Homo sapiens: one gene and its partners. The protein of the gene in region 2 interacts with the protein of the main gene of each other region in a pairwise test. Each region holds a gene or a part of one and is shown on either strand. Other genes may lie near its edges.

Region 1 (3,652 bases), on a different chromosome or scaffold from region 2:
TTTTTTTTTTCGAGACGGAGTCTTGCTCTGTCGCCCAGGCTAGAGTGCAGTGGCGCGATCTCGGCTCACTGCAGACTCTGCCTCCCAGGTTCAAGCAATTCTCCTGCCTCAGCCTCCCGAGTAGCTGGGATTACAGGTGCCCACCACCGCACCCAGCTAATTTTTGTATTTTTTAGTAGAGACAGGGTTTCACCATCTTGGCCAGGCTGGTCTCAAACTCCTGACCTCATGATCCATCCGCCTCGGACTCCCAAAGTGCTGGGATTACAGGCATAAGCCACCATGCCTGGCCGGGCAGTATTTCTTATACTTTAACGTTCATACGGATCTCCAGGAGATTTGTTATAAAATAGTGGTTCTGACTCAGTGGGTTTGGATGGGGACTGAGATTTTGCATTTCTAATCAGCTCTCAGGTGATGCTGATGCAGACTGTGAGGCAAGTCAATAGGGGATAAGAGTCTATCTTTTAATTGAGAACTTGCCATATTCCAAAAAAAAAAAGACCAAGAGGAAGTACTCTCTTGGTGGCACTAGTCCAGCAGGAATCCATTGCATTCACATCAAGGTATCACCTAATCCTGCATTTGAGGCCTTGTGCCCAGGCACTGGACATATGCAGTGAAACAGCTAAGAAGGAGATAGAAGACGGGTCACTTGATCAATTCTACCTCCCTATGGAGCACTTCTTTCCAGAACCTTTGTGTTTTGCCTTCCTAGGTTCTGACTTTGGTTTTAGTGAAAATGAAGTTTTGTGTACAATTTTTTTTTTTTTTAAGACAGAATCTCACTCCGTTGCCCAGGCTGGAGTGCAGTGGCACGATCTCAGCTCACTGCAACCTCCGCCTCCCAGGTTCAAGCGATTCTCATGCCTCAGCCTCCCGAATAGCAGGGATCACAGGCATGCTCCACCACGTCTGGCTAATTTTTTTGTATTTTTAGTAGAGACAGGGTTTCACCAAGTTAGCCAGGCTCGTCTCAAACTCCTGATCTCATGTGATCTGCCCGCCTTGACTTCCCAAAGTACTGGGATTACAGGCGTGAGCCACCATGCCTGGTCTGTACAACTTTAGTTATAGAAACCTTGGTTTTATCTCAGTGAGTTCTGGGAGAGTTTTTTTTTTTAGACAGGGTCTTACTCTGTCACCCAGGCTGGAGTGCAGTGGCGCAGTCACAGCTCACTGCAGCCTCGACCTCCCTGGCTCAAGTGTTCCTCCCACCTCAGCCTCCTTAGTAGGTGGGATTATAGGCGTGCAGCACCACACCCAGCTAACTTTTTAGAGATGGGGTTTCACCATGTTGTCCAGGCCGGTCTCAAACTCCTGGCTTCAAGCGATCTTCCCACCTCAGCCTCCCAAAGTGCTGGAATTACAGGCATGAACCACCGTGCCCAGCCCTTGGAAAACTTTTTATGATGAATTTGGTTATGTATAGCATAAATGAACCTCTACACTCAGGATTCTCCTGCTGTAGTCTGAATGGGTTGTTTGCTACTTACATGGACATGGGAGAGGGTGGCACCTCTCTTTTGAAAGCCCGAGTTCTGGCAGCTCTGCTAGTCTGATATGCTTACCCTCTTCCCTGTGATCCTCAAACCTGGTACCAGTACCAAATGGTAGAGAGCTTTCCTTAATTCATTGTTGCCTAGATTCTCCAACAGGTAATAATCATTTTGGGGCACTCGTTAAACCTACGAATTCCTAGATCCCTTCCCTGGAGTATTTGATTGAGTGGCTTTGGGGTGGGACCAGGATGTTATGTTTGTAACAAGTATCTCACATGCTTCTTAATAGAGAAGTGTGGGAAACACTACTTTAGTTAGTGGTGGGATGACTGTCTTTTATTTTAATATTTGGATCTTAGGAAAAAATACGGAATTAGCACAATACATCATTTTACAGTTATTACAGCTTATAGTGAGGCAATATTGAAGTTCAAATAGTGATTAGCTTAAAAAATAAATTGTACCTGTGGATGATAGATATTGTAACAGTTGTGAAGATGCTATTTGAATGACTAAGGTTTAGGAAACACTGTGTTTCATTCTAGAATTACCTATAGATGCGAGACATTCCCGTAGGGGAAGATTAGGAAATATGTGTTGGTGGCAGTTGGGCTGGTCCTCTATTCATTCCACAACTAAGCGCTGATGAATTAAGATAGTTCCCATGCTGCATATGAGGCTACAGATTTGAAAAGTCAGTTCCATCCTTCAAGGAACTCAGTCTCTTGGGAGAACTGACAATTACAGTACAATAAAGCCCTGTATTGGAGGTTTTAGAACAAGGTGAGGAAAGCATAAATGCCCGGATCTTCCCAGAGTGGTTGAGTAGACTACAGAAGAGATGATGCTTCAGTTTAGTACAAGAAAGAATATAACTTGTCAGGTGGCTAAAACTGGGCAGGGCATTCCAGGCAGAGGGAACAGCCTATGCAAAGTCACAAAGGCAGGAAACAGCAGGAAGTGTAGAGGAAGCTGCAAATAATTCAATATGACTGAAGCAGGAAGATATGAAAAGCAAATGGTGAGAAGGTTGGAGAGAGGCCAGGGCCAGTAGTGAAAGCCAGTGCCAAGTTTAGCAGTTCATATGTTATTCTGAGGGCAGAGGCTGACTTTCAGGCATGAAGTAATTTTTCCCTTTTGGGGAAGGAGTCCACTGTGCTCCTGAGATTCTCAAAAGGGGCACTGACCCTCCAAAAAAGAATCAGGCCAATATGAACCACTTAAGGATTTTCAGCAGAATACTGTAGATGAATTTTCATGTTCAGAAGATGATTCTAGCAGCATTGTGGAGGATGGGCTGGAGGCCAGTGAGGAGTCTACTGCAGTAGTAGTCCAGGCAAGAGAAAAGAGGTTTTACATGAAAATATGGGTCTGGGGAACACTGGAGATTTGGCAGCAAATATTTATGTGCCTGCTGGGCATGTGACACTGTATGTTCCCTGTCCTGAAACTCAGAAGCTCTGCCAGCTGAAAAGGCCAGGAGTGGAGAGAATGTCTGGCTCCAGTCCATTCCAGTCCAGTACAAAGGCAAAGCTGCTTGCATTGCAGCCAAGTCTTACACACGTAGAGGTTCCATTCTCTTCAGTGGAATACTATACAGCCTTAACAAAATAAAGAGGTAGATCTGGATGTGTTGGCAAGATTTCTAAGGTAAGTTAAGTGACAGTCAAGATGTAGTAATTTATGTAAGCATGTTACTGTTTATTTTGAATGACTTTCAGGAATCTCTGCAGTGATATATAGCAGACTGTGGATAATACTTCTGCAGAGTAGAGATAGCAAAGAGACTTTTCAGTTGCCTTATTTAAGCTTGAATTTTCTACCTTGAACATGTATCTTGTAATAGAAATACATACTGTTTATATGTAGTGTTAACTAATCCTAAATCCTCCCAGCACTTCCCAGGAGCCTGCCCACAGCTGTGGCTAACATCAGGTGTGAATCCATTGCTGATCCCTCCACCTCCTCTTCCAGGTCTAAGCCCAGACAGTGGGTGCTCCCACAGCACTTGGTTCATCTCTCCACTGTGGCATTTAATATACTGTATCACAAATATGTAAGTCTGTTTTTCTCTGGACTGAGAACTTGTTGAAGCAAGGATCATGCTGACTAACATAGTGCCTGGTATGACAGAGCTTAGGTCCTGGCAC
Region 2 (3,752 bases):
CCACCAGAAGTACCTCCTCCAGGCTTCAGGATGTCCAGGAGCGGAAGGTTTTCCAGAATGCCCAACAGGCCCCCAGACAGCAGGCCATTGCTGAGGGCTGGAAATGGGTGTAAGGGTCTCTGGGGGTCAGATCTGACAATTCCAGATCCTCAGGCCCCCTCCCCCATCCAGCCCTGTCCCTCCCCACTTTGCAGGGTTGGACACACACACACACACACACACACACACACACACACACACACACACACACACATGCACACATACACCCCTGAAAACTCACCATTTGTCAAGCTTCCTGCAAGACCTGTGGGACTCAAGGGCAGGGCTGGATTCACATTCAAGGGCAGGGTCTGGTCCAGGGGCACGGGCAGGCCTCCAAACTGGGCCATGGTCTGGGCTAACAGCCCGTAGAAGACAATGAGGCCCCCAGTTTGAAACATCTTTGCTCTTAGTATCTGTGGCCAGAATGACAAGTCCAACATGGCATGGGTATCAGAGAGGAATTTATCCACCACCTGCCCTGACACCTGGGGGGTGGGGTTGTTTGCTCCCCAGAACACCAGGGGGTCACTAGTAATAGCTAATACTGCTGAACAATTTCTCTTTGCCAGGCAACAGGCTGACCACTTTACACAATTTCATCTTCATCACAACCCTAAGACATGGGCACCTGTTACCTGCATTGCACAGGTGAGGACCACTGATCAGGGGCCTAAAAAGGAGACAGCCCCACTCCACCACATTCCAAAGAAGAGGGTTTTTTTCCTTCTTGCCAAGAATCCCAGCCTCACCTCACTCCATCTTGCCCACAGTTCACTTGTCTGATTTTCCAGTAGGAGAAACCAAGGCTCACAGAGGTCAAGTGAGTTTGCAGTTGGGAGTTTCAAATATACTCCCATCCCTTCTTGAAACCCACTTGTGTACTACCGAGTGTGGGTAACTTTCCCCAAGGTCACAAGTACACGGTGGACAGAGGATTAGAAGCTAGAGCCAGGTGAACCCTCGGTTAAATTAAGTAACCATCAGATTTATTCTCCAATCGGGCTTGCTTCAATGGTTTGAATCATTGCTGCTCTTCAGACAAAGCAAATGAGAAGGGTTAAACGTGCAAGTGCTGAAGAATTGAACTGTTTTAGATCATCCCTGTTCAGTCCTTTGGCCTGAGCTCAGGCCATGATGGTTGGTGGATGCCCTTGAAAGTCACACAATACAGGGGTCGCATGGCCACAGCCACCATCTCATGTAGACCTTTGTTGGGGAATTCCTGGGGCCATCAAAGTCTTCATTGCATGAGAAGAACCAGGAGACCAAAGAGGGGTAGTGACTTTCCCAAGGTCATACAATAAATTGATGGCAGAGCTGTGGTTGAAGGCAGGTCTCCCAACCCTCCCCTCACCCAACACACAAACATGCATTCTATCATTTTGACACCTTTCTCTTCTCCTTCAAGCTGCCCTGGATGGAATTCCGGTCAACCCCTGAGGTTTGGCTTGCAGACCTCTCACAGGTCTATTTGGCAGCCAGCAGAGTTGTCCAGAGCCAGCACTAGTACCTACAATTTGGAGACAACTGGTGACTTTGTGCAAAATTCCATCTATTGGCTGACTCAGCTAAAGCTCCATCCTTGTGGTGGAAGGCTGGAAATGAAAGGTCTTTGGTCCAAAGAGCCAGTTGTGCCCTTCTTAGGGAGGTAACTTTGACCACAGCCTCTGAATCTCTTTTGGGCAACAGACCCTTTATGAATCCAATGGAAGCTAAAGATCCTAGTCTCAGAAAAAATGCATCAAAATGTATAAAATTGGGTGAAGAATTTTAGGAGGTTTTTGGATCATCTGTATCCACATTGGTAACCTCAAGCTAAAACTTATGCCTTAGAGGCTTTCATTTACGGCATTAATAGTGCCCATTTCTATATCAATGTTACTGGTCTCTTAGGACAGCAGAGCAAATGGCCATCCCCACATCCCTGACATTGGCCAGGTCTGTTTCTCTTGCACAGCCCCCAGTGAGTGATCAAGATCACTCACTGCCCCACAGGGCAGGAGCCTGAGATCCCTGCCGTTAAGGGTAGCAGAGGGGCCACAGAATGGATGGCTCTTACCTGGACTTCTTAGAGGTCTCAGCAGCTGTCCTGGTCTCCTCTCTCTCCCCCACTCACTTCTGCCGAGGAGTCAGCCTCTTTTATAGTATGGGGACGAGGAAGCATGTGTTGGGTGATGGGTTTCTAGATAATTGAGAATTCTGCAATCTGACAGTGTCTTTCAGGGCTCTCCAAAGTAAATAATTGCCAATCACATTAGCAGGTGAGACAGTTAAGCTATTTGGTCAACAAGATAAACAGAGAAAAACCTGAGATGGGATGTTACTCAAGACTTTATGGTTTCCTGAGCGGAGCCAAGGTTGGGGACCCACGCTCCCAAGGTAGCTTGGAGCATTGAAAGGAGCAGCCAGACAGAGCCCAGGAAGGGACCTCAGTCTCATCTCTTGGCCCCTTTCCTCTCCTGCTCTAATTTTTTTGCTCCAGTTGGAGGATTCTTTCTCCTAAAATGTCAAAAGAGTCACACTGCATCCTACATCTGGGGTGCGTCTCCATTCCAGGGCAAGGGTCTCCTGTTTTCAGAGCCCCTATTGCACGTCAGGAGCTCTCTGTCCTCACAAGAACCCTGAGAGGGAGAGGTGACTCCTCCTCTTTTATAGAGGAGGAAACTGAGATCCAGTGGGGACAAGTGCTGAAAGACCCAGAGAGGATGCAGCAGAGTTAGAATGCAACTGACTGGAGAATGAAAACAACAAAAACAACGCCAACAGCAGACACTGGCCGAGCTCCTGCTGTATGCCTGGCCTGCCATGGTGTTCACAGGCAGCATCTCACAAAATCCTCACAACCCTGTACTCCTATTCTATAAGGGGGAAACTGAGGCTGAGTGTGAGGCAAGTTGTCCAGAGATGCAGTGCTTGCCTGGGGTGAGACATCCACATTCAGGTCCTTTCCCCGAATCACTGCACTGAGAGATGAAGGTGCCTCCCAACACTTGCTGGCCATTTTGATTTCCCCACCTGTGAACTTTACACTTTCATGCGTCCCTTTTTATTTTTTAAATTTTCACTTAATTTTTATTTTATTTTATTTTTTGAGACAGTCTTACTCTGTCGCCCAGGCTAGAGTGCAGTGGTGTGATCTCAGCTCATGACAACCTCCACCTCCCGGGTTCAAGTGATTCTCCTGCCTCAGCCTCCTGAGCAGCTGGGACTACAGGCGAGCGCCACCATGCCTGGCAAAGTTTTTGTATTTTTAGTAGAGATGGGGTTTCACCATGTTGGCCAGGCTGTCCTCGAACTCCTGACCTCAGGTGATCCACCTATCTCAGCCTCCCAAAGTGCTGGGATTACAGGCGTGAGCCACAGTGCCCCGCCGCTTCTCTTTTAGGTCCTGGAAAAGTCTTTCCAGGTTCCCAGGCCTGAGGGATCCTTTGGCATCCTGGTCTCTATCCTACCCTTTCTTCTACCTTTCCCTAAATGGAGTAATCAGGCATTTATTTATCCCCACCACTGGGGCCCTTGGAGTCTGTTCAGCAGATGAAAAAGTGAAGACACAGGAAGGCCAAGGTCCTGGACCAGTGAGCGCAGCTCTTACCCTGCAAAACCTAACACCTTATAAGCAAAAGTGGAGAGAGAAGGAATAAATGTGCTTTTATTAAGCACTGACTGCATGCCAGGTGCTCTCCATATTTGAACCTCATCTTCTTCAGGAG
Region 3 (3,652 bases), on a different chromosome or scaffold from region 2:
CAGGGATGCCCGGGTAGTTAAAGACATGGCAACTGGAAAATCCAAAGGCTATGGTTTTGTATCTTTTTATAACAAACTGGTACGTTCTTCCATCTCAATTTATATTTTTTAATACTAAATTTAGTCATTAGTTACTTAATGTATTGAATCTGAAACTTGAATATACTTGAATGTTAACTACAAACACAACTTTTATGTAATGTTATGTATGTTTTAATAATAGAGTATAATTTCATTCCTCTTTCATAAACTCGAAAATAAATAGCTAGAAAAAGAATGATTATACTATAAGGAAGATTATTAAAATTGTGTTTGTACATTGGTAAAGGTCAGATGGATTTAGAAGTAAAGCCCAAGTCTAGGACAGATGAGCTAATCTGAGAATTTAGAGGTTAGGTAAATTATATTCAGTTTTAACCATGAAAATCTCAGTTTTAACTCTACCTTTTAAATTATTATTCATACTCTTATATAACTGGGATGTGAATGACTACAACAAATTATGTAAATAAAAATTTAAGCAATTCATCTTGATTTTTGCATATATTCTTTGTAAAAGGGGTACCAAAGTAAGCATTTGCATTAACTGTAACATTAAATAATAAAGTGGGCTTTGATTTTAAAGCAGTTTCAATAACTTAAATCAATGTTTTGTTTTGTTTTGTTTTGTTTTTTTGAGATAGAGTCTCGCTCTGTTGCCCAGGCTGGAGTCCAGTGGTGCCATCTCAGCCCACTGCAACCTCCACCTCCCGGGTTCAAGCGATCGCGCTGCCTCAGCCTCCTGAGTAGCTGGGATTACAAGCATGTGCCACCACACCCAGCTCATTTTTATATTTTTGGTAGAGACATGGTTTCACTTGGGTTCGCCAGGCTAGTCTCAAACTTCTGATCTCAAGTGATCCTCCTGCCTTGGCCTCCCAAAGTGCTGGGATTACAGGTCATCTACATTTTATTGAAGTGGTAAGATAAAGGGCCAGAGTATTCTGTTTTTGCTTAGATTGAATCTCAAGTTCAAATCGTTTTCTAATTGGTAATAGTTCAGTTTCGTTTTGTTTAGGATATTTAGTAAATTCATCTACTGATTTGTATGGAACCAGCAGCGCCGATATTTTATTTCATCTTACAGAGTCTTATTTATCACTCTTTTCTTTGTGATTGTGCTTTCTTTTTTATCCATAGGATGCAGAAAATGCGATTGTGCATATGGGCGGTCAGTGGTTGGGTGGTCGTCAAATCCGAACCAATTGGGCCACTCGTAAACCACCTGCACCTAAAAGTACACAAGAAAGTAAGATATGTCCACTGTGTGTGTTAAAATTATATTCTTCACAAAATCATGTATCATGTATTCATCTAGTCTCAATTTCTAATTTATTTATGTAAGAGACAGGGTCTTGCTCTGTTGCCCAGGCTGGAGTGCGGTGGCATGATCTTAGCTCACTGTAGCCTGAAACTCCTGGGTATAAGTGATCCTTTCACCTCAGCCTCCTGAGTAACTGAGACTACAGGGACATGCCACCATGCCCAGCTAATTTGTAATTTTTTTATAGAGACAGGGTCTGGTTACGTTGTCCAGGCTGACGTAGTATTTAATTAGTGTTGCAAGACTCTAATTATTTCATTTTATATTTCATTATCTGAAAATAATTGGGCTGTGGTATAAGTATTTTTGGAGCTGTGAATCACCTGATTTTATAGATCAAGTCTGTGTCAAATCATAGCATCAAGAAAAATTATGTTTTCTCCTCCCATTGAGGCATATCTTTTTTTTTTTTTTTTTTTTTTTTTTGAGGTGGAGTCTCGCTCTGTCACCCAGGCTGGAGTACAGTGGTGCGATCTCAGTTCACTGCAACCTCCGCCTCGCAGGTTCAAGCGATTCTCCTGCCTCAGCCTCCTGAGTGGCTGGAATTACAGGCGTGTGCCACCACACCCAGCCAATTTTTGTATTTTTAGTAGAGACAGGGTTTCACCGTGTTGGTCAGGCTGGTCTCGAACTCGTGACCTCGTGATCCACCTGCCTCAGCCTCCCAAAGTGCTGGGATTACAGGCGTGAGCCACCGTGCCCTGCCTTAATTTTTGTATTTTTAGTAGAGACAGGATTTCGTCATGTTGGCCAGGCTGGTCTCGAACTCCTGACCTCAGGTGATCTGCCCACCTCAGCCTCCCAAAGTGCTGGGTGCCCGGCCTGAGGCATATCTTAATAGTATATAGTAATTAACAGAAGAGTTTCATAGTACAATATAACAGTCAACGTTTTTGTTTTGTTTCTGCATACAGACAACACTAAGCAGTTGAGATTTGAAGATGTAGTAAACCAGTCAAGTCCAAAAAATTGTACTGTGTACTGTGGAGGAATTGCGTCTGGGTTAACAGGTACAATGTTTGGTTTTCTAATCACCTCTGAGGAGCTTCATCACTGTTCATATGAATTTCATGATACACATCAGCCATGTTTTATTTGTATGTTTTGTTTTATAGATCAGCTTATGAGACAGACATTCTCACCATTTGGACAAATTATGGAAATAAGAGTTTTCCCAGAAAAGGGCTATTCATTTGTCAGGTAACACTCTACTTGAAATATCATTATTACTCTTATATTTGATTCATTCCTTTCACTTATGTTCTCCAGGGTATCAGTGTTTGTTATTTTAGTGCTTCTTTGCAGTATAGAAGTTTAAGCTACCTACCTAATGTACTTTAGAAAAAAAATACCAACTTGCAGGTGTAAACTGATGAGTTTCCATGTTATTTATTGTGTTAGGTTCTTAAAAAATAAAAGACAAAACCATATCATTTTTCTTTCTTAGATTTTCAACCCATGAAAGTGCAGCCCATGCCATTGTTTCGGTGAACGGTACTACGATTGAAGGACATGTGGTTAAATGCTATTGGGGTAAAGAATCTCCTGATATGACTAAAAACTTCCAACAGGTAATTCGATTTTTCATAGCATTCTTTAAGGTTTCCATCTTACATGTCACATAAAAGCTTTGGAAACTCTGTAAAATGAACAATAAAATAAAGCATATAGCTACTTTCAGTTGATTGTATTTCAAAATTGATTATTTGCGGTATTAACTGAATCTTAATACTTTCTTTTCACAGGTGTCACCACCCCAATAAACTTAGACAATGATAAATAACAGAGTCCTATTCACATAAGGGTGCTTACTTAGTTTTTCTCTTCCTTGTCTCCCACTCTTTCTTCATATACGGTGTTTCTTATGTGTTCCCTAAAACAATACTTTGCTTTTTCCTAGGTTGACTATAGTCAATGGGGCCAATGGAGCCAAGTGTATGGAAACCCACAACAGTATGGACAGTATATGGCAAATGGGTGGCAAGTACCGCCTTATGGAGTATACGGGCAACCATGGAATCAACAAGGATTTGGAGTAGAGTAAGTTGTTTGGGTTTTTCCAGTATAGAAACGTATGGTTCTGACAAAATAAATAAAAGTGTGTTTTCCTAGGGAGAATCTATTTTAATTATATACATTGAGCTATTTGGCATTATGAGCATTATAGAAACTAATCTAACAAAATATGATTTATGAGGCTAAGAAATTACTTCTCATTACCTAGGTGGAAAGGGGGGATTGGGGTAACATTTAGTGTGTCCTATGATCCCTGTAAGCAGTTGGTAGAAT

What was found.
Region 1: the proteins of BPIFA1 (region 2) and PPIH interact in binary tests that used the Homo sapiens proteins (3 or more experiments, as listed by UniProt).
Region 3: the proteins of BPIFA1 (region 2) and TIAL1 interact in binary tests that used the Homo sapiens proteins (3 or more experiments, as listed by UniProt).

Annotation. Positions count from the first base shown.
Region 1 is NC_000001.11:42,671,891-42,675,542, forward strand, and holds part of PPIH (peptidyl-prolyl cis-trans isomerase H), read left to right. Parts: intron 1-3,397; exon of another isoform or gene 3,398-3,558; intron 3,559-3,652. UniProt on the Homo sapiens protein: PPIase that catalyzes the cis-trans isomerization of proline imidic peptide bonds in oligopeptides and may therefore assist protein folding. Participates in pre-mRNA splicing.
Region 2 is NC_000020.11:33,234,400-33,238,151, reverse strand, and holds the start of BPIFA1 (BPI fold-containing family A member 1 precursor), read right to left. Parts: upstream 2,157-3,752; 5' UTR 2,102-2,156; intron 456-2,101; 5' UTR 441-455; coding exon 281-440; intron 98-280; coding exon 1-97.
Region 3 is NC_000010.11:119,576,362-119,580,013, reverse strand, and holds part of TIAL1 (nucleolysin TIAR), read left to right. Parts: intron 1-3; coding exon 4-79; intron 80-1,179; coding exon 1,180-1,288; intron 1,289-2,277; coding exon 2,278-2,373; intron 2,374-2,478; coding exon 2,479-2,563; intron 2,564-2,810; coding exon 2,811-2,934; exon of another isoform or gene 2,935-3,108; coding exon of another isoform or gene 3,109-3,126; exon of another isoform or gene 3,127-3,263; coding exon 3,264-3,403; intron 3,404-3,652. UniProt on the Homo sapiens protein: RNA-binding protein involved in alternative pre-RNA splicing and in cytoplasmic stress granules formation. Shows a preference for uridine-rich RNAs.